Linked DNA regions of Homo sapiens: all the other regions are linked to region 5. Evidence: fine-mapped expression QTL. A gene starts in region 5. Each other region holds a variant in brackets. All regions are shown on one strand. Distances are from middle to middle.

Region 1 (4,064 bases), 20 kb after region 5:
AGGAAATGAAGGTGCTGGGCCCACTGTGGACGTGCTTCCAGAGCTGGGTGGGCCATGCAGGATGGGCGTGAAGGAGTGGCCGCTCCAGTAGGTGCCTTGGGGCCAGTGCTTACGTTCTCTGAACCTCATTCTTGACTGGAAAATGGAGACAACGTGGTACCTTGAGGGGATGTCGCCAGGGGAAGCCGGGTGCTGGGGACTTGTGACAGGCAGGGACCCACAGACTCGCCAGGGGAAGCCAGGTGCTGGGGACTTGTGACAGGCAGGGACCCACAGACTCGCCAGGGGAAGCCGGGTGCTGGGGACTTGTGACAGGCAGGGACCCACAGACTCGCCAGGGGAAGCCGGGTGCTGGGGACTTGTGACAGGCAGGGACCCACAGACTCGCCAGGGGAAGCCGGGTGCTGGGGACTTGTGACAGGCAGACTCGCCCGTCCAGGCGGCTGGGCCTCCTCCTTGCCATGGGGCCTGGGAAGGCCCGGGTGGTGCTACCTGTGCTGTGGCCCCACGTGAAGCCTTGTTGCTGTGGTTAAAGACGCTGGGCCCTGCTCTCGAGGCCACCTTGGAGGGTCACTGACCCTTGGCCCTCACTCTCCCCATCCCAGTGGGTGCCTGTGTGAGTGGAAGGGGCTGCGCTGTGTGGCGCGTTAAGGCCGGCTCAGGGCAGACAGGGAGGGTGGCCGGCCCCGTGGGTGCTGCCTCTGACAGCCCGTGCCTCTCAGCCGAGGACAGCATAGCAGCTAAGATCTTATCCTACAACCGAGCCAACCGAGTCGTGGCCATTCTCTGCAACCATCAGCGAGCAACCCCCAGTACGTTCGAGAAGTCGATGCAGAATCTCCAGACGAAGGTAGCAGCTCCCAGGAGAGCCCCCAGCCCAGCCCTCAAGGGACCCCTCCCCCTCCCCAGAGCCTCGGCACAGGCCTGGGAGCCAGCTGCGGTGGGCACGTAGGGTGTGGAAGGGTGTGGGCACAGGGGCTGGTGCGGGATGGGGAGGGGCAGCCCTGTCTGGACCCTTTTCCTGCAGATCCAGGCAAAGAAGGAGCAGGTGGCTGAGGCCAGGGCAGAGCTGAGGAGGGCGAGGGCTGAGCACAAAGCCCAAGGGGATGGCAAGTCCAGGAGGTGAGTACCCGTGCCCTCAGACGCCTTCTCCCGGGGCCCTGTCCCAACCCGTAGGGTCCAGCCCCACAGGGTCGGTGGGAGACGACCCTTGTTGTCTCCTTGTGCGGAGACGAGAGATTGTAGAAATAAAGACACAAGACAAAGAGATAAAAGAAAGGACAGCTGGGCCCGGGGGACCACTACCACCAAGACGCGGAGACTGGTAGTGGCCCCGAATGTCTGGCTGCGCTGTTATTTATTGTATACAAAGCAAAAGGGGCAGGGTAAAGAGTGTGAGTCATCTCCAGTGATAGGTGAGATCACGTGGGTCACATGTCCACTGGACACGGGGCCCTTCCCTGTTTGGCAGCCGAGGCAGAGAGAGAGAGAACAGTTTACGCCATTATTTCTGCATATCAGAGACTTTTAGTACTTTCACTAATTTTCTACTGCTATCTAGAAGGCAGAGCCAGGTGTACAGGATGGAACATGAAGGCAGACTAGGAGCATGACCACTGAAGCACAGCATCACAGGGAGACGGTTAGGCCTCCGGATAACTGCGGGCGAGCCTGACTGATGTCAGGCCCTCCACAAGAGGTGGAGGAGTAGAGTCTTCTCTAAACTCCCCTGGGGAAAGGGAGACTCCCTTTCCCGGTCTGCTAAGTGGCAGGTGTTTTTCCTTGACACTGATGCTACCGCTAGACCATGGTTGGCCTGGCAATAGGCATCTTCCCAGACGCTGGCGTTACCGCTAGACCAAGGAGCCCTCTGGTGGCCCTGTCTGGGCATAACAGAAGGCTCGCACTCTTGTCTTCTGGTTACTCCTCACTATGTCCCCTCATATCTCTGTATGGCCTGGTTTTTCCTAGGCTATGATTGTAGAGCGAGGATTATTATAATATTGGAAAAAAGAGTAATTGCTACCAACTAATGATTAATGATATTCATATATAATCATATCTATGATCTATATATAGTATAACTATTCTTATGTATTTTATTATACTGGAACAGCTCGTGCCCTCAGTCTCTTGCCTCAGCACCTAGGTAGCTGCCGCCCACACCAACCCAGATGTGGCAGCTTCAGACGCGCCTTCCCATGGCCAGTTTTGTTTTCCTCTTCAATTGTTATTTTGTGATTTTTTTTTTTTTTTTTTTGAGATGGAGTCTCTGTCGCCAGGCTGGAGTGCGCTGGCGCGGTCTCAGCTCACTGCAACCTCCGCCTCCCGGGTTCAAGTGATTCTCCTGCCTCAGCCTCCCGAGTAGCTGGGGTTACAGGTGCG[C/T]GCCACCACGCCCGGCTCATTTATTTATTTAGTAGAAACGGGGTTTCTCCATGTTGGCCAGGCTGGTCAAACTCCTGGCCTCAAGTGATCCTCCTGCCTTGGCATCTCAAAGTGCTGGGATTACAGGCATGAGCCACTGCACCTGGCCAACTTTGTGATTTTTAAAAATACAAACTATATGCCTTGTGGACAAGAGTGGGACACATGGAGCCGTGGGAGGAGGAGACCCTGGCCGCCAAGGAGGTTTGTGATTGTCATTGTGGGGTCAGGAAATGAGAAGAAGGTGCCAGACTCTTCTCCAGGGCGGCGGCACCATCCCCTCCCCACCAGCAGTGTGTGAGGGCTCCGATTCCTCTGTCCAGGCGCCACTGTAGGGTCAGTTTTCCATGTGTCGATTAGAGCCCAGTGGGTGTGAAGGAGCGTCTGGCCGTGGGTGCTCTTTGCAGGTGCTTGTTGCCCACTTCTGTATCGTCTCTGGAGAATGACTGCTCAGGTCCTCTGTCCATTTTCCAGTCGGGTTGTTGTTTTATTATTGACTTGTAAGAGCTCGTCGATGTTTCGCCCACTCTTGGGTTGTCTTTGTTCTTTCTTTTTTTTTTTTTTCCTTTGGAGACAGAGCATTGCTCTGTCGCCAAGGCTGGAGTGCAATGGCATGATCTCGGCTCACTGCAATCTCTGCCTCCAGGTTTCAAGCAATTCTCCTGCCTCAGCCTCCTGAGTAGCTGGGATTACAGGCACCCGCCACCATGCCCGGCTAATTTTTTTGTATTTTAGTAGAGACGGGGTTTCACCATGTTGCCCAGGCTGGTCTTGAACTCCTGAGCTCAGGCAATCTGCCTGTCTCGGCCTCCCAAAGTGCTGGGATTACAGGTGTGAGTCACTACTCCCAGCCCTATTTTTTTTTTTTTTTTTTGGTGATGGAGTCTTGCTCTGTCACCCAGGCTAGAGTGCAGTGGCGTGATCTTGGCTTACTGCAACCTCTGCCTCCTGGGTTCAAGCGATTCTCCTGCCTCAGCCTCCCGAGTAGCTGAGACTACAGACACACACCACTATACCTGGCTAATTTTTGTATTTTAGTACAGATGGGGTTTCACCATGTCGGTCAGGCTGGTCTTGAACTCCTGACCTCGGGTGATCCACCCACCTCGGCCTCCCAAAGTGCTGGGATTACAGGTGTGAGCAACTGCGCCCGGCCACATCTTTCTTCTTTCTTGTTGGTGTCCTGTGACACATTTAAGATTTGGATGAGTCAGCGTGCTGAGAAGGCTTTGCCTAACCCAAGGCCATGAAGATAGATTTCTCTGTTTTCTCCTAAGAGGTTTATTGGTTTACTCTTACATTTAGGTCATTGGTTCTGAGTTAATTTTTGTGTGTGGTCTGAGGGAAGGGCCCAGGGTCATTCTCTTGCATGTGGACAGCCAGATGTCTCAGCATCCTAGCTCACCATAGTCTCAACTTGCTGGGCTCAAGCAATCCTCCCGCCTCAGCCTCCTGAGTAGCTGGGACCACAGGTGCCAACGGCCACAACTGGCTAATTTTTACACTAAGAAAATTTTTGTATGTTGCCCAAGCTACTCTTGAACTCCTGGCTTTAAGCAATCCTGCCTTGGCCTCCCAGAGCTCTGAGATTAAAAGTATGAGCCAACATGCCTGGCCCTTAGGACTGTATCTATAAAGGC
Region 2 (4,063 bases), 39 kb after region 5:
AAGAGAAAACGATTCCTCTACCCACAGAACGCTTCTGAAATCACATGTGTGTAAGCCTTTCCCTCCACACCAACCAGCTCTCCAACTCCCTCTCAGACACCAACGCGATGTCCTACAATTTAACTCGATTCTGTCACCAATTGCCCGGAGCTAGTGCAGAACCCACAGGGTAAGGGGTCAGTCCCACAAGACCACCCCGACTTCAGATGCCAAGTGCAGACGGTGGGCCCCGGGGACCCCACGACCCCCTTCTCAGGTTCCAATTTTTTTTTTGAGATGGGTCTCTCTGTCGCCCAGGCTAAAGTACAGTGCCCAGATCTCCGCTCACTGCAACCTCCGCCTCCCAGGTTCAAGTGATTCTCCTGCCCCAGGCTCCCAAGTAGCTGAGATTACAGGCGCACGCCACCACGCCCAATTAATTTTTTGTATTTTTAGTCGAGATGGGGGTTTTGCCATGTTGGCCAGGATGGTCTTGATCTCTTGACCGTGTGATCCGCCCGCCTCGGCCTCCCAAAGTGCTAGGATTACAGGCGGGAGCCACCGCACCCGGCCAAGTTCCATAATTTTCTAAGCACACAGAAGTCGGGACCATATGAACCGGCTGTGAAAAGGCGTTGAAATACATGGATGAACCACCGACCCGCAAGGTACGGGGGAGGACGCGAGGCTTCCATGCCCTGTCTGGGCGCCCCCTTCCTAACTGCCCCCCCACCCCGCCTTCACCAACCCGAAGCCCGAGGCCCTCATCTCATGCAGGGTTTTGATGGAGGCCTGGTTGCGGAGGAATGACCGATTCAATCACCGGCCACTGCCCCGCAGCAGCTGACCGTGGGAGGCGGGGAGTCTCAGAGGCGGGCGGCCGGCCCGGGACAGACCCCTGAGACCTCCCCGCCTCTGGGAATCGCCTCCCGCGGGCAGCGCTCGCCTTCCCCGAGCCCTGTCTCTCCTGATTGCTCCCAAGCCAAGGCGGATGCAGGCCTGGCGAGGCTTTCGCAACCCGAGAACCAGGCGCGCAGCCGGCTGTTACTTCCTCACCGCGCACGGGGCGGACAGGAGCCTCCCCCGGCCTCGGCCTCGCGCCCACCAGGCCGCCGGCATCTCTTCCGCCGCAGCCCCGGCTCACTCGGCGCCATGCACCCGCCGGTGCTGGATGAGGTGGAAGCTCAGGCGGAAGGCGCGGCCGCACTCGGTGCAGCGGAACGGCTTCTCGCCCGTGTGGAGTCGCTGGTGCCGGAAGAAGCCCGACAGCGCCCGGAACGCGCGCCCGCAGTGGCCGCACTGGTGGGGCTTCTCCCCGGTGTGGATGCGGCGGTGCTCGCGGAGGAAGGAGCTGCGGCTGAAGGCGCGGCCGCAGTCCTGGCAGGCGAAGGGCCGCTCCCCCGTGTGCACGCGCTGGTGCTGGAGGAGGTTGGAGCTCTGGCTGAAGGCCTGGCCGCACTCCCGGCACTCGTACGGGTTCTCCCCGTGGTGGGTCCGCCGGTGCCGGACCACGTTCGAGCTGTGCAGGAAGCGCTTCCCGCACTCGCCGCACGCGTACAGCCTCTCCCCGGTGTGGGTGCGGCGGTGCTTGGCGGCGTCCGACCTCTGGCCGAAGGCCTTGCCGCAGTCGGCGCACGCGTAGGGCTTCTCGCCCGTGTGCACGCGCTGGTGCCGGAGGAGGTTGAAGCTCTGGCCGAAGGCCTTGCCGCACTCGGCGCACGCGTAGGGCCTCTCCCCGCTGTGCGCCCGCTGGTGCCGGACCACGTGCGAGCTGTGGATGAAGGCCTTCCCGCAGTCGCTGCACTCGTACGGTTTCTCCCCCGAGTGGATGCTCCGGTGCTTTGCCGCGTCCGAGGAGCACTTGAAGCTGCGGCCACAGGCGCCGCACGGGAAAGGCCGCCCCTTCCAGCTGCCCCCGCCCTCTGC[G/C]CCGGGGCCTGCGTTCGGAGGGACGTCTGACTCGAGGCCACTCTGTCCTCCAGTTTTCTCAGAAGTGACCGGGCCTCGAGGGGAACCTCCGGGCCTCTCTCTGGCTTCCTGGTTTTCACAAAGGCCAAGAGACCCCAACGCCCGGGGAGGCCCCCCTCTGTGGCCCTCTCCCTCGGGAGCGCCTGCCTCTGCGGCAGGCTCCGTGCTCTGAGCTGCCTGCACCTCGGCTGACCGGCTGCCACTCGGGGCCTGCGCCAGGAAAGCAGCCTTCACAGCTGAAAAAGAGGCCAGACAGGAACGATTTTAGATGTAAGAGAACGTGAGTCGAGGGTGGCTCTGGCAATCGTGGTGACGACAGAGTGACAGTGATGGTGACGTCAGTGTGCCACAGACACCTTTGATTTTGCCCATTCAGTTCCCGCCTCGTTTTTTTTAGTTTTTTTCTCCTCCCCACCTTCTTAACCCCCATGGTTATGAGGTAGACGAGAATCCTGCACTGCCACTCCAGAAACGGGGCTGTGGGGCCGGATGTGGTGACTCACACCTGTATCTCCGCACTTTCAGAGGCTGAGGCAGGAGGACCACTTGAGACTTGGAGTTCAAGACCAGCCTGGCCAACATAGTGAGATCCTGTCTCTTAAAAAAATAGAATTTTAAAAATATACAAACAGAAACGAGGCTAAACGGGGCTAGAAACAGGGCTAAACCTCTAGCCTCGGCCCACCCAGTCCTGGGAGGGGAGGGGACAGAAACGCAGGCTCTGGGCACTGCCTTACTCTGCGGGACAGCTGGGAAAGCAAAGGAGGCTGGAGACAGCTGGCAGCAAGCCAGGACGGGAGCGAGGCAGATGTAGCAGGAGGCCCGGGGACAGTGGCACCCAACAGAGCCCACGGCCCAGCTCTGCCTTCTGTCTGTCCTTCCTTCCTTTCTTGTGAGCCAGGGTCTTGCTCTATCACCCAGGCTGGAGTGCAGTGGTACCATCATGGCTCACTGCAGCCTCAGGGCTCAAGTGATCCTCCCTCCGCCTCCCAAGTAGGTGGCGCACCTCCAGGTGAGCACCACCACACCAGGCTATTTTAAAAATTTTTTGTAGAGACAGTGTGTCAATGTGTTGCCCAGGCTGGTCTTGAACTCCTGGGCTCAACCCTCCTCCCACCTGAGCCTCCTAAAGTGCTGGGATTACAGGTGTGAGCCACCACACCCAGCCATGGCCCCAGCTCATTCCTTTTACCTTGGACTCCCTGAGACAACGCAGACTCCTTAACAACTGCCCCCAAACACCAAACTCTAAGGGCTTCTGTTATGTGCAAACAGGAGCGTCCTCACTCAGACAGAAATCCGGACCAAGAGGCCAGTCGCGGTGGCTCACGCCTGTAATCCCAGCACTTTGGGAGGCTGAGGTGGGCAGTTCACGAGGTCAAGAGATCAAGATTAGGTGAAACCCTATCTCTAATAAAAATACAAAAATTAGCTGGGTGTGGTGGTGCACACCTGTAGTCCCAGCTACTTGAGAGGCTGAGGCAGAAGAATCACTTGAATCCAGGAGGTGGAGATTGCAGTGAGCTGGCGCCACTGCACTCCAGCCTGGCGACAGAGCAAGACTTTGTCTTAAAAAAAAAAAAAAGAAAAGAAAAGAAATCCGGAACAAGAGCTGGAAGCAGCAACCCACGTCCCATGTGGGCTGGGCGGCGGCGGCGCTGGTCAGGCTGAGCAACCCCATCCAGGCTGCGTTATCAATGGCCCTTGTCTGGCAGTCAAGCCACTGGTTAGATTTGGTTCCACTGGCTCACAGGGACAGACCATGTGGCCATTTAGAAAAAAGGCTTAAGGGGTAGGGGTGAAACCCTGGGACATGAGAAAGCTGGCAACTGAGCTTGGCCTGCATAGGAGGCAGGAGGACTCAGCCAGGAGGGGCAGCAGGAGGAGGGGGGCCAACGAGGCCAGCACAGCAACTGAGGAGGACTTCTCAGTCTGCAGGCAGTCCGCTGTGGCAGCAGAGGAGAAGCGGCTGAGTCCCAGCTGCACCTCTCAAGAATGTGGAGGGCGCAGATAAGACGGAAGCTCCTGTGGAGGTGGGGGTGGGGCAGGGATGTTCCAGGGCAGATGAGAGCAGGCTGCTATCGACAGTCCCCACCTCTCTCTGCCCTTGCAGACCCCT
Region 3 (4,052 bases), 280 kb before region 5:
GGCTCCAAAGGATGAGAGCGTGATGACCTCAGCCTCCCACTGTTTGACATTACAGGTGCAACTGACATGGGTGAACCCCAGGGATCCATGCGGATTCTAGTGACAGGGGGCTCTGGGCTGGTAGGCAAAGCCATCCAGAAGGTGGTAGCAGATGGAGCTGGACTTCCTGGAGAGGACTGGGTGTTTGTCTCCTCTAAAGACGCCGATCTCACGTGAGTGAGCCCATCCCCAGATCAGCCCTTCCTCTCCATCCTACCCCCCACCCTAGAACTAAGAGTTCCAGGCTGGGCATGTTGCTGAGTCTAACAGTAGCTGTGTTTCTGGGTCCTTCCTGCCAGGTGGCTGGCCTGGCCTGGGTGTGCTTGGCTGTGTTCCTGGAAAAACAAACACCCTCCCATCTCTTCCTGGAAGCCTGCACCCTCATATCAGCCAGGCCCTGGGGCCACCCTCCCTTTTGACTGTCCCTCCTGCCATAGTCCCACCCAGTTCCTGCACTTGGCACCCAACCCTGGGGTGCTGGTTCCCTCCAGAGCCTCCTGACAGCCTGGCTTCCTACAGGGATACAGCACAGACCCGCGCCCTGTTTGAGAAGGTCCAACCCACACACGTCATCCATCTTGCTGCAATGGTGGGGGGCCTGTTCCGGAATATCAAATACAATTTGGACTTCTGGGTAAGTGAGGGTGGCCCCAGCAAGCACTGGAAACCAGGATCCCAGGTTCTGGGAACTTCCTGGCGGGCTTCCCACTCTCACAGGCCCACATTCCCACCCCAGGAAGTCCCTGAGGATCAGGGCTTGGCACAGCCTGGTGGGGGCAGCCCCTGAGGGACCCCCAGTCACTCACACTTGGTGCTGTGGACAGAGGGCCATGCAGGGGGCCTGGAGGCACTTGGCCCAGTAGGCAAAGCTGTGGAGCTGACTTGCAGCATTGGGAGGCTGAAAAGAGCCAGCGGCCACGTGGGACTGGGAGCTGGTTCCTGCCCCCTGAGTCCCCAGGGCCTCTGGAGCCTCTGGCTCCCAGGACTGTGCTGGCCCAGCTCCCCTTAGCCGGGCCCACCACACACTCTGGGGTGCAGGGGTGTGAACCGCGCTCTGTGCATCTGCTGCCTGTGTCTGGGGGAAGGGGGCGTGGTGTAAGGGCCCTGCCGTGGCTAGCTGTGTTCCGGAGGGTTGGCCCCACCAGTCACTGGGCAGCAGCCTTGCCTTAGCTGGCTTTGCTAAGCGTAGGAGGCACTAGCGTGAGCAGAGGCTCAGAGGAGATTCTGCCCAGGAGCCCTGTCACCCCAGAGCCCTCTTTGTCGGTGTCTCGGCCTTCCCAGCAGGCTGCCTGGCCACCACCTCTCCCTTCTCCCAAGACCAGTCCCAGGGCTCCAGCCATGCCGTGTCTAGTTCATGCACGGGAAGTGGGGCCCGCGGGGTGGACCCGGCAAGCGCAGGCTCCATTGATCCTGGGAAGTAGAGCCAGGTGGGAGCTCCTCCAGGGTGGGGAAGTAGACCGCCCTGTTCCCCGTGTAGTGGGAGCCCCAGCCCAGCCCAGGGCCAGACTGGGCTCCTTCCCAGCCTCCAGTGGGGTCCTATGCCCTGACCTCAGCAGCCTCCTGGGTGGGGCCCAGCCCTGAGCTGGGGGTGTGGTTCTCCTCATAGTGGAAGGCAGAGCCAGCCCCTCCTCCAGCCTTGGTGGGGCTGGAGAGCAATGGTGTCTGTAAGCCCACTGCCTTGTCCGGAAACGGTTAGGATGGGCAGGCTTGGGTCCTCCCAGGGCTGAAGGGCCAGGGTGTGTCTCCACTTCTGCGTCTGGAGGAGCAGGTAAGGGCTGGGATCTGGCCTGGGGAGCCTGAACTGTCCCCGCCTCACCCCTGCAGAGGAAAAACGTGCACATGAACGACAACGTCCTGCACTCGGCCTTTGAGGTGGGCGCCCGCAAGGTGGTGTCCTGCCTGTCCACCTGTATCTTCCCTGACAAGACGACCTACCCGATAGATGAGACCATGGTGAGGGGCAGGGCCTGGCTGTGGGTGGGGCCGGGGAGCCGGTGGGCAGGGCCAGGAAGTAGCGGCCTCTGCCTCTCCCACGCCCGCAGATCCACAATGGGCCTCCCCACAACAGCAATTTTGGGTACTCGTATGCCAAGAGGATGATCGACGTGCAGAACAGGTCCTCGCGCCCATCCTGCTGAGGCCCAGCCAGGAGTCGGGGAGAGGGCCCCCAGGGGCGGGTGGGGCCGGCTGGTCGGGTCTTCGTGCCAGCCTCAGTAAGAGGCCAGCGGCAGCCTGGGGTGGGATCGCGGGCCCAGGACGAGGGCAGGAGACGCTGTGCCTCCGCAGGGCCTACTTCCAGCAGTACGGCTGCACCTTCACCGCTGTCATCCCCACCAACGTCTTCGGGCCCCACGACAACTTCAACATCGAGGATGGCCACGTGCTGCCTGGCCTCATCCACAAGGTGCACCTGGCCAAGAGTGAGTGCGTCCGTCC[G/A]ATGGGGTGCCCGGGCTCAGCTCGGGAGGAGGTGACCCAGTGCCTCTGACACCTGCTCCTTCCCCAAATCTGCAGGCAGCGGCTCGGCCCTGACGGTGTGGGGTACAGGGAATCCGCGGAGGCAGTTCATATACTCGCTGGTGCGTAAAGGAAGGCACAGCTCTCCCCAGAGAACCTGCCCTATTGAGCCCTGGGCTGGCCCCTGCTGGGCTGTCGGGGAGGTGGTGCAGGAGGGAGGCTCCTACCAGCAGAGAATCTGGGCTGAGCTCCAAGAGGAGCCATCTCTGGTCCTCGTGGAGGCCCCATAGGCTCCTGTCTCCAGGAGTCACTGGCGTAGCTCTGAGCTCCAAGGGAGAAAGGAGGGACCCCTGTTCCCCAGGCTGAGCCCCCACTGAACAAGGACAGCAGTATGGACTCCCCAGCAGGGGCGTTTGGGAGAGGGTTGGCTATACCCATGGTCTCTGACCCTGCCTGTCTGACCTCTAGGACCTGGCCCAGCTCTTTATCTGGGTCCTGCGGGAGTACAATGAAGTGGAGCCCATCATCCTCTCCGGTGGGTACCTCAGCCCTCAGCCCCCTTCCTCCATGGTAGGACAGGATCCAAGGTTGTCCTGGGAGGCTGGCTGAGGGGTGGGAGCAGGAATATTCATGGGCCGTCGGGTGGCACCAAGGGGAGGCCTGACCCGGTGGCTCCCCACAGTGGGCGAGGAAGATGAGGTCTCCATCAAGGAGGCAGCCGAGGCGGTGGTGGAGGCCATGGACTTCCATGGGGAAGTCACCGTATCCTCTGGCTCCAGTGCTGGGGGTTGGGCGGGGGCCCCTTGGGCGGGCTCAGTGGCCACCCGGTGTAGGGCCAGCGTGGGTGGGACACTGCGGAGGGAGGATGCTCACCCTGGCAGGCGGAGGAGCTCTGCTGTGGCTCCCCTGGGAATGGCAGAGGTTCAAGGGCAAGCTGCGGGGGCTGGGGTGGAGGTGCTCTTCTCGCTGTGGCCTTGACAAAGCCTCCAGTTTGATACAACCAAGTCGGATGGGCAGTTTAAGAAGACAGCCAGTAACAGCAAGCTGAGGACCTACCTGCCCGACTTCCGGTTCACACCCTTCAAGCAGGGTGAGCCCTGACCCCACAGCCCTCCACTTGGTGGAGGCCTGCCCCAGCCCCTCCCTCATGCTCGCTACCAGGGCAGAGGTGAGGTGCCCCCTCAGAGCCTGTACTGCCCTGGAGGTGGGACACCAAAGCTCTGAGGGGTGACTTCCCTGTCCCTGGGCCTCCTCCCCCCACTTCCTCCCATGCGGCCCCGACCCTCCCTGTCCATGGCCCTCACCTGCCTGCCTCTGCAGCGGTGAAGGAGACCTGTGCTTGGTTCACTGACAACTACGAGCAGGCCCGGAAGTGAAGCTGGAAGACAGGATCAGGTGCCAGCGGACCATCGGCTGGCAGAGCCCAGCGGCCACCACCCGTCAACCCTGCCAGGAGCTGAGGGCACCACCCAGCAACCTGGGCCTGCATTCCATCCGCTCTGCAGCCCCAAGCATCTTTCCAGTGGGGCCCCCATTCACGTTGGTCCTCAGGGAAACCA
Region 4 (4,064 bases), 27 kb before region 5:
CCCTGCCAGGCCCTGGTGGGGCCTCCGTAAGCAAGGAGCACCCAGCCTGCTCTGGGACCTTCCCGGGCTGTGTGTGCTTATGTCCCTCCCGGCCGCTGAGGGACCTTCCCAGGCTGTGGGTGCTCATGTCCCTCCTGGGTGCTGAGTGTGCTTAGGGAGGGAGGGAGGGAGACGCCCATGGTTGGCCTGCTGGCTTCTGGAGAACTGCACTTTTCTGGCAAATAAAAAGAAAAGGATATGGGGAAGGGGAACACATGATTGTCCTTGGAATGTGGCAGAGTGGCCTGCTGTGGACTTTCCTCTGGTTGCCAGTTTCATTCTTAGGACAGTGCCTTGGTGAGGGTGCCCCGGGCACAGCACACTGGGTTTCTGCAGTGGGCACTTACTGGCACTGATCCCAGCAGCTGGATGCACCTGTGGCGTGTTTTATACAACTGAAGCGACCATGGCCTTCTGTGGTCCAGCCTGGTGCAGAGCCCACCGCCATAGAGCAGTGATACTGGAACGTGTGTGAGGGTTGCCGGTGGGTTCCACGGGGCGGTGGGAGGAAGAGGTGTAGAGGACTCCGACACTGTTTTGGCCTTGGCAGCTCAGAGATGGCTGGTGTGACCACCATACGGGGACGGTTTGGGAGGAGGAGGTTTCGGCAGGCAGAGCCTTGGGTTTGGGATGCTGGGCTGGAGCTTCTCTCACACAGCTCAGGGGAAGGGTCCTGAAGGCTGCCGAGTCTCCAGCTCAGGGGCCAGGCTGGAGGCCAAGGTCCACACTGTAGACGTCTTTGCTATACAGTTGCTGGGGACAGAGTGCCAGGATAGTTCACGACAGTGGGCCCAAGGAGGAGGGCAACAGAAACAGGGTCAGGTGGCCCCCAGGAGCTCAGGGAGGAACCAGTTCCAAGGGAAGCCAGTGACCAACACATGCGCCATCCTGCGCCATTGACAGCAAGACCAGGCTGCCAAGAGTGGAGGAGGCTGGTGGAGACCCTGTTGGAAGTGGTCTCAGGGGGCTTTGAGAGTGAGACCTTTTCTTTTTGAGACAGGCTGTCTCATTCTGTTGCCCAGGCTGGAGTGCAGTGGTGTGATCACAGCTCACTGCAGTCTTGAACTCCTGGGCTCAAACAATCCTCCTGCCTCAGCCTCCCAAGCAGCTGGGATTACAGGCATGAGAAACCATGCCTGGCTCATTTTTGTATTTTTTGTAGAGACAGGGTCTCCCCATATTGCCTAGGCTGGTCTCGAACTCCTGGGCTCAAGTGATCCGCCAGCCTCATGAAAGTGTTGAGATTACAGGCATGAGCCACTGCACCCAGCCAAAGAATGAGAGTGCTTCAACGGGGATTAAGGTGAGTCAGAAGAGCAGAGACGGCCATAGGGAGTGGGCACATTTGAATTCTGAGGACAGGTGCAGTACTGTTTGTGGGGCCAGGGGAGGGCTGATGGGTGGCTGGCACTTAATAGGGGGCGTGAAGTGTTCAACCACGGTAACAGGAGAGAAGATGGAGGGGAGCAGAGGTTTGGTGGGTGGGGGGCACAGGCGGGACAGATGCCGTGTTGGGAGTGTGGGGTACCTCTGTGGATTGTCCCCAGGTGTCAGTGACACAGGAAGCAAGGCCTCTGCCCAGAGTGGCCAGGGAGGGGAAGCGGGCAGGACGGGCTGAGGACAGGGGCCGGGGCCCAGCCGAGGTACATGGAGGCTCAGAAGACCGAAGGCTGGGCTGGACCAGGGCTTAAAGGGAAGGAGAGGGGCAAGGGCCAGCCCCGTGGTGGCTCAGATGA[G/T]GATTGTGTCTCGCTGAAGTATTGTGATGCACACAAGAAAAACGTTCTTTTTTAAAAATATTTTATTTAATTTTGAGACGGAGTCTTGCGGCCGGGCATCATGGCTCACGCCTGTAATCCCAGCACTTTGGGAGGCTGAGGCGGGCAGATCACGAGATCAGGAGATCGAGACCATCCTGGCCAACGTGGTGAAACTGCGTCTCTACTGAAATACAAAAAATTAGCTGGGTGTGGTGGTATGTAACCCGGGAGGCAGAGATTGTAGTGAGCCGAGATCGCGCCACTGCACTCCAGCCTGGTGACAGAATGAGACTCCGTCTCAAAAAAAAAAAAAAAAAAAAAAAAAAAGAGACGGAGTCTTGCTTTGTCGTCCAGACTGGAGTGCAGTGTTGCGATCTTGGCTCATAGCAACCTCCGTCTCCTGGGCTCAAGAGATTCTCCCGCCTCAGCCTCCCGAGTAGCTGGGATCATAGGCACGCGCCACCACACCTGGCTAATTTTTGTATTTTTAGTAGAGACAGGGTCTCACCATGTTGCCCAGGCTGGTCTCAAACTCCTGGCCTCTAGTGATCCGCCTGCCTCCGTCTCCCAAAGTGCCGGGATTACAGGCATGAGCCACCACACCCGGCCAAGATAAAAGTTCTTAATTCCAAGGACTGTTAATCATTTGTGACCTAATCTAGATTCAGTCTGGATGGAGTCTCTGATGTCATTACTGAATACCTTGTTGTCAGACATTTTTGGATACAATTTATAGTTTTTGAGCCCTTCCCAGTCAACTGAGGCCAAGGCTTTTTCCCCAAATCTGAGACCACCTAGGCATAGCTACCCTCGAAAATGTACATCATCAGGAAATATGGATCATCTATTTACCAAGCAAAAGAGGGAGCATTATTCAGTGGAATCAAAACCTTCTTCTCCCTGAAAACCTGTTTCTATTTTCCACGTGTGACTAATTTTTAATCTCGGTGACTGAGCGGTAATGGTGTTGTCACTGATGCTGACGATGGGCTTTTTAAAAAGCATATGATCTATGCTGCCTTCATAGTATCCTTTTTTGGTTATTGTTTCTGTGGCTTTCTGAGTAAAATAAGCTCAGCGTCTGTGGCTCTAGCAACCCCGGCGCCATTGTAGAGGAGATGCCATCTGCATGCAAAGGTTCTGCGGTGCCTGCTCCACAGAAGGCTGCCTCTCCTGGCCATTACTCACCACAACAGGAAAACAGCTATCTGCCTATGTCCATTTGTTAAGAAGGCAGTAACATGGCATCTTTAATAAACTCAAATAAATGCACTAAAACTTATCACAAAATAGCCAAGTTGTAAAGTGAAGGAGTGTTTGTAATAACCTCTTCTGTCTTCCCCAAGTGTACGTTTTCCAGGCAGTTCTCCTTACCGTGACAGGGCTTTAGGGCCAGAAGACAGCGCCACTCACCGGACCACCCAAACTAGAAGCCTGGGCACCATCCTCAACTCGCTCATTCTCATTTCCACACCCTACTAATTATCAGACACCTCCCCTCAACCTCTGCAGGCCTGCGGTTTAGGCTCCTACTGTCTCTGGCCTGACCAAGCCCTGTTTCCTCCTGACCTGCGAGCAGTGTGCCCACTGGTGCCATCATCTCTCTGCAACATACAGGGGATCATGTGGGGGTGGTGCTCCCCGGTGCCCGCACCATCGTGTCAACACGCGCCAGCCCTTCCCCAGCCCCACCACGCACACACATGCAGTGCGGCTGACGCTCTCAGCACCCTGCCTTTCCCATGCACCCCAACGCCCCCCCGCCCCCAGCACCTGCAACTTCCTGCCTGAGCGCTTTTCTCAGTGCTTAGGGGTGCTGGCCTATGCCCGGGGCTTGCTGGAAGTGCAGTTGGCAGAGGTGGGGCGGCAAGGATGGCCCCTCAAAACCAGAGCAAACCCACTCGGAACTGTGTCCTGTGCTCTCCCAGAGGCCTCCAGGAGGACTAGTCCAGGGGCCCCGGCTCTCACCTGCTCCCCAACACGTGTACTTCCCTACTCCCTTACCTGTGCTTCCTGAGTCCACCTCCCGGATAAAATACCTGCAGGAAGAGCCTGCTTTGGAGGGAGCCGTACTCCACACTGGCCACCGGTGGCCACTTGCCGTGCCCTTGTACACAGAGCTCCCTCTCGGCCTGGAGGCCTTCGTCCATTCTGCTACCGCGGCCACATCCGCTCAATTTTCCAGACTCAGCCTCTGGGATCTCACGTCACCCCAGACTCACGGACCCCGACATGGCGCATCCTGCACCCCACGGGTGTGGCCTGGCG
Region 5 (4,064 bases):
GCTGGGACTACAGGCGCCTGCTATCATGCCAGGCTAATTTTTTTAGTAGAGACGTTTTAGCCAGGATGGTCTCGATCTGACCTCGTGATCCGCCCGTCTCGGCCTCCCAAAGTGCTGGGATTACAGGCGTGAGCCACTGCACCTGGCCAATGCTGTCTTAACCATATGAAATCATCCAGTCCGTGAACATGGGATGGCTGCTCATTTATTTAGGCTGTCTTTAATTTCTTTGGGCAATGTTTTACAGTTTTCAGAGTATAAGCTTGATACTTCCTTTGTTAAATTTATTGTGCAGTATTTTATTTTTTCATGCTATAATAAATTATTTTCTTAATTTCATTTTCAGTTTGCGTATGGCTACTGGTTAGAAATACAACTGATGTTTGCATATTGATCTTGTACCCTACAATTGTGCTGAATTCATCTATTAGCTCTACTAGTTTTTGTGGATTCTTTTTTAAATTTTATTTTCCATAGAGATAGGGTCTCACTATGTTGCCCAGGCTGGTCTTGAACTCCTTGGCTCAAGTGATCCACTTGCTTTGACCTCCCAAAGTGCTTGGATTACAGGCATGAGCTACGGTGCTCGGCCAATTTTTGTGGATTCTTTGGGATTTTCTATATACAAGATTATGCCACCTGCAAATAGACATAATTTACTTCTTTCTTTCTGATCTGGGTGTCTTATTTCATCTGCTTGCCTGTTTGCTCAGTTAGAGCCTCTGGTACCATGTTGAGAGGCAGTGGTGAGAGTGGACATCCTCGTCTTATTCTTCATTTCAGCAGGAGCGTCCAGTCTTTCTTCTGGCATATGAGGTTAGCTGCGGGGTTTTGTAGATGCTGCTTTTCAGGTTAAGTTTCTTTCTATTCTGTTCTTGAGTGGGTTTTCCATTCTGTTTATCATGAAATGGTGCTGGATTTGTCTGCTGCTTTTTCTGCATCTATTGAGAAATCTTAGGGTTTTTGTCCTGCCACACTCCCTCTTACAAAACCTGAGGAACCAACTGGGCATCGGCTCACACCTGAAATCCCAGCACTTTGGGAGGCCAAGGTACTTGAGCCCAGGAGTTCGAGACCAGCCGGGGCAACATAGGGAGACCCCATCTCTACAAAAAGTAAAAAACAAAAAATCAAAAACCCTTAGAAACCTGAACTGGAAAACACATTGACCTCAGGATTCCGTTGAAGGAATGGTGGGCCTGGGCCAAGGCCCTCTTCTGGTTTGTAGAAAGGGTTACCTGAAAAAATATGCATCACTGTTCCGCAGCCCCTGGGAGGAGGTGGCCCACCTGGAGAGTCAGCTGCTGTGTCCTGGTGTGTGTGTACCTTCAGCTGCTGAGCTGCTCATTCTGAAATGATGGGACACCTACCAGGTCTGCCTGGGCCCTAAGAGCGAGCAATTGCAGCCCTCGGCCTCTGCCCATGGCTTCCAGCAGCTAGATGACATGGACACTGAGTCAGTTGGTGGCAGGGGAGGGTCGCTGAGGGCGTGCGGTGGCAGCCCGGACTCCTTTCCTGCCTGTGTCCACTGCATTCCCCCCAACGGTCACAGTGAAAGTGCGGAATGCATGTGAATTCATCTGCTTCCCACGGTCCTGGTGTCAGGGTTTTACCGGGGAAGACCAAGGCTGCGGTGCTGCCAGAGGTGAGCGGTGTGGCCTGTTGTGGCTCAGGGCCTACCGCCAAGTGCTGATCTAGAGGTTTTGCCCCTTGGCCATGCTCCCCAGTGAAGACACTGGGGTTAAACCCTGGTCAGGGTCAGCAGTCACGCTGGGGACTGAGCGCAGGAAGGAGGCTCCAGCTGTGCCTGGTCTCTGGTCTCCTTGGGAGTGAGAGGCTGGTTGGCAGGGATGATTTCGCAGGACTTCCTGTGACCTTTGTCCAGAGGCACCACCTCTGAGGGGCTGCTGTGGGCTGGACAGCAGGTGCTTCTGCCGGTTTCTGCGTCCTGGAAGTGCTGCTGTTTGTAGGGGATGAGGTAGGGGGCCATCTGAGCCTGTGTGGTCCCTTCTCCAGAGCAGCAGAGCGTGTACTTAGGAAGGACCTGCTAGGTGCCCCTGCCCTCAGAGGCTCTGGGAGAGAGCTGTGTGCAAGCCCTGGGCAGGAGTTCACTGGCCTGGTCGTGTGACCTGTGGGGCATCCTGACAGCCAGCCCTGTGCTGCAGAGGTCAGTGGGACTGGGTTTGGATCTGGGTCCCCGCCCAGCGTGAAGGGGCGCTGGACCACGAAGGCAGGGAAACCAGGGGGAGGCCGGCAGGACAGTCAGTGGTCCTGCTGCCGCAGCCCCGTGCAGGCTTAGACCGCCCAGCCTTGGGATGAGCGCCGCTGGGGGCGGAGGCCGCGCTCGGGGGCGGGGCTGGCCGCTGGGGGCGGGGCGGGGCTGGCCGCTGGGGCGGGGCCCAGCTTGTCGCTCTTTCCCGGAGGCTGGCAGATGCGCGTGGTGCGGCTGCTGCGGCTCCGGGCGGCTCTGACGCTGCTCGGGGAGGTCCCCCGCCGCCCGGCCTCCCGGGGTGTCCCGGGCTCGCGCAGGACGCAGAAGGGCAGTGGAGCCAGGTAAGGTGTCCCAGTGAGCAGGCGGCGAGGGCCCTGAGCACCGGGCTTGGGTAGGTCCAGAAAGGGGAGTGGCAGGCCTCGTGGGACGGCCTTGCCCTGCTTCCGGTTTTCCCAAAAGTCGGGCCAGGAGAGCATGCGTGCCGCGGTGTGACCGGCCCGCCTCCTGCCCGGGGTGTACAGGCCCCCCCATGACGTCGCCCTTGCTTCCCCAGGCACCACCCCACCAACCCTATTTGGGGAAATCTCCCCTCTTTTTTTCCGCTTGTGGTTTCATCATTTGTGTAGCTGTGCCTGGGCCTCAACACTGTAGGGTTTGGTTAGGTACTTTATAAAAAGCTTATGTTGCTGTGCATGGTCTTCTGAGACCCGCTCTTTCCTGGAGTCGGTTCCCGGGTTGTCTCCAGGACCGATTCTGCATGGCGGCGGGCGCTCACTGTCATATCTACATCACCAGGCACAAGCCGCATGGATCCAGTGGCCCTGGTGGCCGTTGGTGGTCCCAGGCGCTTTCCTGGAGGACATGTGAGAAGCCCTGCCGGCGCATACTGGGCCTGGGGTAGCCGCATGGGGATGGGTCTCTGCGCATGAAATGCTGGAGTTTCCGAAGAGCTGGAGAGTTGACAGCCTCACTGGTGCGTGGGAGATCCTGCAGGAGTTCCCGCCAGGTCTCGCGGTTTATCATCATTCACTTAGTGCTTCCAGCGTGGCATGTCTCTGTGACCTGGTGGTGCGCTATCAGCATACCCATTCACAGCTGAGGGCCTGCACAGCTGCCTAAGGCCATGCTGCAGAAATGTCCTGTCTGCCTGCAGGAGCTTGGGACCCAAAGAGAGCCCCAGATGGGGCAGGGTGTCTTGGGAGGAGGGAGTTCTGGCCTGCGCTTGGAGCTGGGGCTGGCTGTGGGCCCTGCATTGAGGCACATCTCTCCGAGGGTGCACAGGCAGGTAGGTGCTTTCCAAAAAGTGCTGCTGAGCTGCAGTCGCCCAGGTGGACAGGTGGGTTTGGAGCAAGGTCTCTGGCTTTGAAAGCCAGCTTGTGTCTGATGGTGGTGCTTGGTGCCCTGGTCTCTGCAGGGGTGAAAGAATGTCACTACAATGTGCAGCCCTCAGTTGGGCTTGAGCGCACACCCAGTGGTGCAGCCCTGCCTGGCCGCTGGCCGGCAGGTTGTTTCACCTCAGTGTCTTCATCTGTGAAATGAGACTGGTGATGTGACTACCCTAGAGGCTTTGTGAAGGACTTGGCAGTCAGGGTCACTGTCAGTTCTTTATTTTTATTTTTATTATTATTATTTGAGACAAAATCTTGCCCTGTCACCCAGGCTGGAGTGCAGTGGTGCAATTTCAACTCACTGCAACCTCTGCCTCCTGGGTTCAAGTGATTCTCCTGCTTCAGCCTCCTTGAGTAGCTGGGATTACAGGCACCCGCCACCACGCCTAGCTAATTTTTGTATTTTTAGTAGAGACGGGGGTTTTGCCATGTTGGCCAGGCGGGTCTCGAACTCCTGGCCTCAA
Region 6 (4,064 bases), 340 kb before region 5:
AATTGCTTGAACCCAGGAGGCAGAGGTTGCCGTGAGCTTGTAGCAGGACAAGATGCAGACAAAACTCTCAGACACCAAGTCAAAGAAGGAAGGAGTTTATTTGGCCGAGAGCATTGGCAAGACTCCTGTCTCAAGAGCCGAGCTCCCTGAGTGAGCAATTCCTGTCCCTTTTAAGAGCTCACAACTCTAAGGGGGTCCGCGTGAGAGGGTCGTGATCAATTGAGCAAGCAGGGGGTACGTGACTGGGGGCTGCATGCACTGGTAATCAGAACGGAACAGAACGGGACAGGGATTTTTACAATGTCTGGAATCTATAGGTAACACAACCGGTTAGGTCAGGGGTCAGTCTTTAACTACCAGGCCCAGGGTGCGGCGCCGGGCTGTCTACCTGTAGATTTCATTTCTGCCTTTTAGCTTTTACTTCTTCTTTCTTTGGAGGCAGAAATTGGGCATAAGAGGATATGAGGGGCAGTCTCCTCCCTTATTCCCCCTCTTTGAGACTCTCACTCATTTTATTAGTGGGAGTTCTCACCTTCTTCCTCACTAGCTATGTCTTCCTGCATGACAGAGCGATAGTGATTCATGAAGTACACTTGTGCTGAAGCATTCTTTTTTTTTTTTTTTTTTTTTTTTTTTTTGAGACGGAGTCTTGCTCTGTCGCCCAGGCTGGAGTGCAGGGGCGCGATCTCGGCTCACTGCAAGCTCCGCCTCCCGGGTTCACGCCATTCTCCTGCCTCAGCCTCCTGAGTACCTGGGACTACAGGCGCCCGCCACCATGCCCAGCTAATTTTTTTTTTTTGTATTTTTAGTAGAGACGGGGTTTCACCGCGTTAGCCAGGATGGTCTCGATCTCCTGACCTCATGATCCGCCTGCCTCAGCCTCCCAAAAAGCTGGGATTACAGGCGTGAGCCACCGCGCTCGGCTGTGCTGAAGCATTCTGGTGAACTAGAGTAGTGATGAAACCTTTTACCATTTGAAGGAGTACAGGTAGTAAACAACGGATCAGTAAGCAGGTTCTTATTACTACTGTAATTTTTATTATAAGAGTTTTAAATCCTCTTAGCGCTGGGAACCATTTTCAAACATGGCCTCAGGATCAAATCCGTGCCACGCTTGTACAGGCACATGTGCCAGTTTCGTCATGTCTTTAACTGTATCTTCAACTACTTGCCCCGATCATGTATGTGCAGGCAGCAATTGGTAAGGTTCAATTTCCCACAGACTTCTCCTTCAGCTGCTAGCAAGTAGTCGAGAGTCAATTTATTTTGATAGATAGCATTTCTCATCTGAGTTTCTTGCCGGGCCAGAATAGTCAAGGCTCTGCCGGTCCTATTAGTGATTATTTCTAAGACAGCTTGTAACCGTATGATTTGGTTGAGCATGTAGATGGGGGTCCGGTATCCCCACAAGCCATCTTGTGCCCAAGTAGCAGGCCTATAATATTCCATCATTCTCTCAGGGGGCCATTTATTATCTTTCTTATTTTTTTATAGCTATGCTTCTCTTTTCGCGGGAAACATAGGGAAGCCCAGGAGTTCACCTGTCTTTATAGGCAGTAGGAAGAAAGATGGTTTAATAGTGCCAATCACACAACTGCCTGCCCACTGGTCGGGTAATTTGGTGTAAGGCCTATGCCCACACATTCAGTATAATCCAGTGGGGGCTGTCCAGTCTCGGTGGGACTCCGGATGGGTCCACACGGTTTGCAACTTTGGGAATTTACTAAATGGATTTTTCTTAGTATGGTTTGAACTCCACTAGGTGGCTGTTTTTGTAGTACCATTATACAGTTTTTGCCTAAGGCAGCTGAGTCGTCCTACAGGAAGGGTGAAGTCCTTCCTTACTCTTTTTTTTTTTTTTTTTTTTTTGAGACGGAGTCTTGCTCTGTCACCCAGGCTGGAGTGCAGTGGCGTGATCTCAGCTCACT[A/G]CAAGCTCTGCCTCCCGGGTTCACGCCATTCTCCTGCCTCAGCCTCCCGAGCAGCTGGGACTACAGGCGCCCGCCACCACGCCTGGCTAATTTTTTATATTTTTAGTAGAGACGGGGTTTCACCGTGTTAGCCAGGATGGTCTCCATCTCCTGACCTTGTGATCCGCCCGCCTCGGCCTCCCAAAGTGCTGGGATTACAGGCGTGAGCCACCGCGCCCGGCCCCTTACTCTTGCTATACAGTATTGTCTAGTGATTGAGGCTTTTAGGACCCGGAAGTTATCAGGGTGATTTTTCTGAGCCAGGAATTCGTCAGGAACTGGGTCTGTAGGTACTAATTCTTGGGCTTCCCGTGGCCATTGGTCTTTTATTATAGTTCCTCCACACACATAGCATGAAGTGACATTGAGAGACTGGGCTACATGGTCAGCTAATTGCAAACAAATTTCTTATTTTTCCTGGAATTTCTGGTGCTGGCACATTCAGTTCATCATAGAAGGTTTGAAATACTGGCTCAGGAGAGCGTTTATAAACTTCTCCTCAAACCACAATATTTACTTGAAGATCCAGTCCAGCCCCATGAATTTCTAGGGTTATGGCCGGGCACGGTAGCTCACGCCTGTAATCCCAGCACTTTGGGAGGCAGAGGCGGGCGGATCACGAGGTCAGGAGATCGAGACCATCCTGGCTAACACGGTGAAACCCCATCTCTACTAAAAATACAAAAAATTAGCCGGGTGTGGTGGCGGGCACCTGTAGTCCCAGCTACTCAGGAGGCTGAGGCAGGAGAATGGCGTGAACCCGGGAGGCAGAGCTCGCAGTGAGCCGAGATCGCTCCACTGCACTCCAGCCTGGGTGACAGACCGAGACTCCATCTCAAAAAAAAAAAAAAATTCTAGGGTTACACATTTCCTTTTTTTCCAGCGAGGATTAAGGGGGTTGGTTATTACTAGTTCTAAGGGGTTACACTGACCACTGGTATAGGAAGGGCCACTTTTCCTTTTCTGAAGGTGGACAGAATTTTTTTCATTTTTTATCCAAGTAGCCTAAATGACACAAGACCAGTAACTACATTCATTTCCACACAGTCCTAACTCATGATAAATGTACTTATTTTCTGCCATACAGCCTCTTTCCTAATGAAGAGAACCACATCCTATTCCTAACTTATTAGTATTAATGACAGCACAGGCATCACACTTCAAGGTGACTTGTTTGGGCACCTCTTTTTGTTTGTTTTTTTTGGCTAACACTTTACTCATATTGTTTATGAGCCCCCACCAGTCTTTAATTCTTAATCTTATTTGAAAAACTGTGGTCATGGGAGGCTCAGATGGGTCATAACACACATCAGGTTGGTCATTTCCTGGGCACATACCTTGTATAGAATAACATTATACAAACAAGTTCTTTTTAGAGTTCCAGTACACTTATAATAACCGTAAAATAATGGGACTGTAGCAACATTTTGTCCTCCCTCAGTGACTTGATGTATACACTAGGAACAGTCCTCAGTCTGAGGAGGGTGAGTTGAAGTCCTTACTGTACAAGTCCAAATTTTAAGGAAAACGAGTCCTGCGATGAGTTTCCTCATGCTTCGGCCGTGCATGGACCAGTCAGCTTCTGGGCGTGACTGGAGCAGGGCTTGTCGTCTTCCTCAGAGTCACTTTGCAGGGGTTGGCGAAGCTGCTGCTATCCACGTACTGCTCACAGTCTACTGATGTTCAAGGATGGTCTCGGAGGTTGCGCCTGCTAGAATAAACTGAGTCCAACACCTCTACACAGTTATGTTCAACTGGGCTCCCCGATACCGGGAGCAAGGTGCTGGGGTTTAGGGTGTTGCAAACTGCAGTGGTTATGTGGGGATTTTCACACAGCAAGCTTTGGTACTTGGTTAATCTAGCATTTGTTAGCCAATGATGTCCTTTGGGATTCATCAAAGTTACCACAGCATGGGGGGCCTTTATATTCAGGTTTTGTCCAAGAGTTAGTTTATCTGCTTCTTGTGCTAACAGGGCCGTTGCTGCCGGGGCCCTTAGACACGGGGGCCAGGCTTTGGAAACCCCCTATAGTTGTTTAGAGAGATAGGCCACTGCCCTTAGCCAGGGCCCCACAGTCTAGGTTAAAACTCCAAATGC
Region 7 (4,064 bases), 46 kb after region 5:
GCGCCGGAAACGCCAGTCTCCACCCCTGGCCCGCCCCCTCGGCACTTCCGGCGACGCTCTGGGCAGCGGGAGGACAGCGCGCTCGGCGGCGGGAGAGCGGGACGGCCCAGCCGCGGCGCCTTCAGCTCATCGGTTGCCCGCAGGCGCCGGCCGAGTCCTTCCTGCCGGGCAGGAAGCCCTGCCTCGTGGGGGGCAAGGTCGAGCCGTTGGCGCGCCGGGATCCGGCTCGAGCCAACTGAGGACCGGGCACCCGCAGGACGTGTCAGGAGGTGTCGAAGGCCCGCTGTGGGGCGGCCACGCGCGTTCCCGTCCGTTCCCCGCGGCGTCCCGCGCTTGTCCCGGGTCCCGCTCGGCTCACGGGACCCTCCAGGCCCCCGGGGCTGTGGCAGCACGCGGGTCCCGAGCGTGGGCTTCCTTGGGGCCGAGAGCTTGGAGCGCCCCAGGCGCTGCCCCCCGCCTCCCTGCAGGACGCCGCCCTCGCGTCTCCGCTGCAGAGAAGCCCTTGCTGCCCGCCTCTCGCGGGCTCTGGGCTCTTTCTCACCAGGGACCGAGCTCTCATTCGTTCAGCCTTCCCCGGGCAAGATGCACCTCCTGTCCAAGTCTCTCGCCCTTCCGCCTGCCGCAGACCGAAGGTCACGCATCTCCAGCTGGAATGCTGCAAAAGTGACGCTTTTCATCATGGGTGCAAAGTGTACAGCTGCAATGTGGACTTGTTCCCTCTTACAACGAGTAGACAGACCCTCTCTGGGGAGAAAAGAAAGGCTGAAGAACCGATTCCCATGAGAGAACCCTAAGAAGACAGCAACAGAGGGCCAGACGCGCCCCTGGAACTGGACCCTGGACTGGGGCGGGAGGGCCACAGCCTTGGGAGCCCAGGTCCCTGCCCGCGCCTCCGACAGTCCCGCGCCGCCGCCACCCGGCATCTGCCTCTGGGCCTCCACATCTCGTGCCTGGAACCGCGTTCATTGCGCACTGCACCAGTAAACACCTGAACACTCCCACCACATGCTGCACGTTTATTTGTAACAAATTAGAAGCTGTTGTAAAAGATAAAAATTAAAACACTTAGACTGGGTGGGCGAGAGGCTCATGAATGTAATCCCAGCACTTTGGGAGGCCAAGGCAGGAGGATTGTTTGAGTCCAGGAGTTTCAGACCAGCCTGAGCAACATAGTTAGAACCGTGTCGACTAAAAATTTTTTTTAAAAATTAGCCGGGCGTGGTGGCCGGCGCCTGTGGTACCAGCTACTCGGGAGGCTGAGGCGGGGGGACCACTTGAGCTCGGGAGGCGGAGGCTGCAGTGAGCCGAGATTGGCACTGCACTCCAGCCTGGGTGACAGAGATTCTGTCGCAAAACAAAAACAACAACAACAACACACACCACACACACACACATCTAAAAGAGATGATGTAGAAGTACAAGTAACCGTTTCCCTCTGCATCCCAGTGGAACGTCGTGGGTCTTCTGAAGACCCTCTCTTGCCCTGCAGGCTCCGGTACTCCAAGCACGCGAGTCTGCGCAGGAGGCGCTTCGCTCTCCGGAGCTCCCCACTGCCTCCTAGACACAGTCCCGGCTCCTTAC[C/T]CCGGGCGGAGGCTCTTCCAGACGGGTCCCGACTGCCTCTGTATGCCCACTGCTGCCGTGCCAGAAGCCACTGCCCTCTCCTCGCCCCTTTCCAAATGTGCCCTGCCTCAGGCCCGTGTCATGCTGTTCCCTGTGCCGCTTTCGCCCGTCCCCTCACTCCCCGCCACCAGAACCGGGAAGGCGGTGCCCCCTTTCCAGGCCCAACTTCCGGCACTGAACCTCTAGGAGTCCGCAGCCTCCTCCGCCCGGGCCTCTCCCCGCTGGCTCAGACCGCAGGGCCAGCAGCCCCGCCCACACGGAAGCCCCGCCCATCAGGCCGACCCCGCCCCTCCTGCCTCGGCCCCGCCCTCGCCTTGGCCCCGCCTCCTCGCTGGCAGCCGGCAGGCGCAGTCGGGGTCGTGGGACCCAGGAGGGGCCTCCAGCAGGTGCCTTGGCGAAGATCCTGGACTGCGTCACAGCCCAGGGTAGCCGTCCCGCGGCCCGGCTTTGGAGCTTCCCACGGACACCCGGGGCTCTGCCTCCTCCGAAATCACCCCTCACCGCTTCCCTCCTGCTCTCCCACAATGGGAGGCCACACGCTGGGGCCCCTGAGAAACAGAATCGAAAACACAAGGCAGGACTCCAGGGACATGGGGGTGGGGGAGTGAATCCAAGCAACTCAGGACGCCCGCGAATAGCTCAGATCCTGCGAAGAGCCCGCGCCCTGGAATTCTGTTTGCTAAGGGGGTCCTCACGGTGTAGGGTGAGACAGAGAACCTCTGGGCAGTTGCAGGTGGTAAATGTCCATGATAAAGGGCAAGTTCACAGTCTAGAAAATTCTGGATTTCTTGATCCAAAAGTAGCCGAGTCCAGGCCGGAGAGGTGGCTCACGCCTGTAATCCCAGCACTCTGGGAGGCCAAGACAGGAGGATCACTCGAGGTCAGGAGTTCGAGACCAGCCTGGCCAACATAGTGAAACCCCATCTCCACCAAAAAAAAAATTACAAAAAATTAGCCAGGCATGTTGGTGCTTGCCTTAGTCCCAGCTACTCGGGAGGCTGGGGCAGGAGAATTGCTTGAATCCAGGAGGCGGAGGTTGCAGTAAGATTTCGCCACTGCACTCCACAGTGAGACTCCGTCTCAAAAAAAAAAAAAAAAAAAAAAAAAAAAAAAAAGTAGCTGAGTCTTAGAATACCACCCCTTCAAGGACTGTTTCCATGAGCCTATCCACTGAGTCTCTTACCTGCTACCCTGAAAAAAAAAAGTACGATGAAGAAATTACCAAAGGCACCCCTGAAAAACAAAGACAGCTGGGCCTGGCGCAGTGGCTCACTCCTGTCATCCCAGCACGTTGGGAGGCCGAGGCGGGTGGATCACCTGAGGTCAGGGGTTTGAGACCAGCCTGGCCAACACGGTGAAATTCCATCTCTACTAAAACTACAAAAATTAGCCGGGAGTGGTGGTGTTCGCCTGTAATCCCAGGTACTCGGGAGGCTGAGGCAGGAGAATCACTTGAGCCCGGGAGGTGGAGATTGCAGTGAGCTGAGATCACGCCATTGCACTCCAGCTTGGGTGACAGAGTGAGACCTGTGGGGAAAAGCAAGAGAGATCAGATTGTTACTGTGTCTGTGTAGAAAGAAGTAGACATAGGAGACACCATTTTGTTCTGTACTAAGAAAAATTCTTCTGCCTTGAGATTCTGTTAATCTATGACCTTACCCCCAACCCCGTGCTCTCTGAAACATGTGCTGTGTCAACTCAGGGTGAAATGGATTAAGGGCTGTGCAGGATGTGCTTTGTTAAACAGATGCTTGAAGGCAGCATGCTCCTTAAGAGTCATCACCACTCCCTAACCTCAAGTACCCAGGGACACAAATACTGCGGAAGGCCGCCGGGTCCTCTGCCTAGGAAAACCAGGTATTGTCCAGGGTTTCTCCCCATGTGACAGTCTGAAATATGGCCTCGTGGGAAGGGAAAGACCTGACCGTCCCCCAGCCTGACACCCGTAAAGGGTCTGTGCTGAGGAGGATTAGTAAAAGAGGAAGGAATGCCTCTTGCAGTTGAGACAAGAGGAAGGCATCTGTCTCCTGCCCGTCCCTGGGCAATGGAATGTCTCGGTATAAAACCCGATTGTACGTTCCATCTACTGAGATAGGGAAAAACCGCCTTAGGGCTGGAGGTGGGACATGCGGGCAGCAATACTGCTTTGTAAAGCATTGAGATGTTTATGTGTATGCATATCTAAAAGCACAGCACTTGATTCTTTACCTTGTCTATGATGCAAAGACCTTTGTTCACGTGTTTGTCTGCTGACCCTCTCCCCACTATTGTCTTGTGACCCTGACACATCCCCCTCTCGGAGAAACACCCACGAATGATCAATAAATACTAAGGGAACTCAGAGGCTGGCAGGATCCTCCATATGCTGAACGCTGGTTCCCTGGGTCCCCTTATTACTTTCTCTATACTTTGTGTCTTTTTCTTTTCCAAGTCTCTCGTTCCAC

The links.
Region 1: its variant is fine-mapped to the expression of TOP1MT in whole blood (TOPMed, PIP above 0.99). The same link has a PIP of 0.9 or more in lung, sun-exposed skin and unexposed skin.
Region 2: its variant is fine-mapped to the expression of TOP1MT in cerebellum (GTEx, PIP above 0.99). The same link has a PIP of 0.9 or more in cerebellar hemisphere.
Region 3: its variant is fine-mapped to the expression of TOP1MT in whole blood (INTERVAL, PIP above 0.99).
Region 4: its variant is fine-mapped to the expression of TOP1MT in whole blood (GTEx, PIP above 0.99). The same link has a PIP of 0.9 or more in unexposed skin.
Region 6: its variant is fine-mapped to the expression of TOP1MT in whole blood (INTERVAL, PIP above 0.99).
Region 7: its variant is fine-mapped to the expression of TOP1MT in subcutaneous fat (GTEx, PIP above 0.99). The same link has a PIP of 0.9 or more in lung and sun-exposed skin.

Annotation. Positions count from the first base shown.
Region 1 is chr8:143,312,785-143,316,848 of GRCh38, reverse strand. TOP1MT (DNA topoisomerase I mitochondrial) reads left to right here. Exons shown (of 14, transcript NM_052963.3): 11 at 723-850; 12 at 1,028-1,122. Among named protein-coding and RNA genes, the nearest start is that of TOP1MT, 20 kb to the left of the region's middle. The variant C/T (reference allele first, on the strand shown) is at 2,386.
Region 2 is chr8:143,293,857-143,297,919 of GRCh38, reverse strand. ZNF696 (zinc finger protein 696) reads right to left here. Exons shown (of 3, transcript NM_030895.3): 3 at 1-2,180. The coding sequence ends at 1,120. Among named protein-coding and RNA genes, the nearest start is that of ZNF696, 4.5 kb to the right of the region's middle. The variant G/C (reference allele first, on the strand shown) is at 1,906.
Region 3 is chr8:143,612,727-143,616,778 of GRCh38, reverse strand. It overlaps GFUS (GDP-L-fucose synthase), which reads left to right. Exons shown (of 11, transcript NM_003313.4): 2 at 56-212; 3 at 559-673; 4 at 1,864-1,992; 5 at 2,082-2,155; 6 at 2,326-2,459; 7 at 2,551-2,615; 8 at 2,962-3,028; 9 at 3,176-3,255; 10 at 3,484-3,583; 11 at 3,814-4,052. The coding sequence starts at 67. The coding sequence ends at 3,869. Among named protein-coding and RNA genes, the nearest start is that of GFUS, 2.8 kb to the left of the region's middle. The variant G/A (reference allele first, on the strand shown) is at 2,476.
Region 4 is chr8:143,360,438-143,364,501 of GRCh38, reverse strand. It overlaps a transcript of RHPN1 not described here. Among named protein-coding and RNA genes, the nearest start is that of RHPN1-AS1, 6.2 kb to the left of the region's middle. The variant G/T (reference allele first, on the strand shown) is at 1,776.
Region 5 is chr8:143,333,229-143,337,292 of GRCh38, reverse strand. It overlaps TOP1MT (DNA topoisomerase I mitochondrial), which reads left to right and starts at 2,413. Exons shown (of 14, transcript NM_052963.3): 1 at 2,413-2,553. The coding sequence starts at 2,432. RefSeq lists a silencer at 2,256-2,715 and enhancers at 2,916-2,965, 2,505-3,189.
Region 6 is chr8:143,676,362-143,680,425 of GRCh38, reverse strand. No RefSeq gene overlaps it. Among named protein-coding and RNA genes, the nearest start is that of ZNF707, 6.1 kb to the left of the region's middle. The variant A/G (reference allele first, on the strand shown) is at 1,929.
Region 7 is chr8:143,287,336-143,291,399 of GRCh38, reverse strand. No RefSeq gene overlaps it. Among named protein-coding and RNA genes, the nearest start is that of ZNF696, 2.0 kb to the left of the region's middle. RefSeq lists a silencer at 1-448 and an enhancer at 1-494. The variant C/T (reference allele first, on the strand shown) is at 1,582.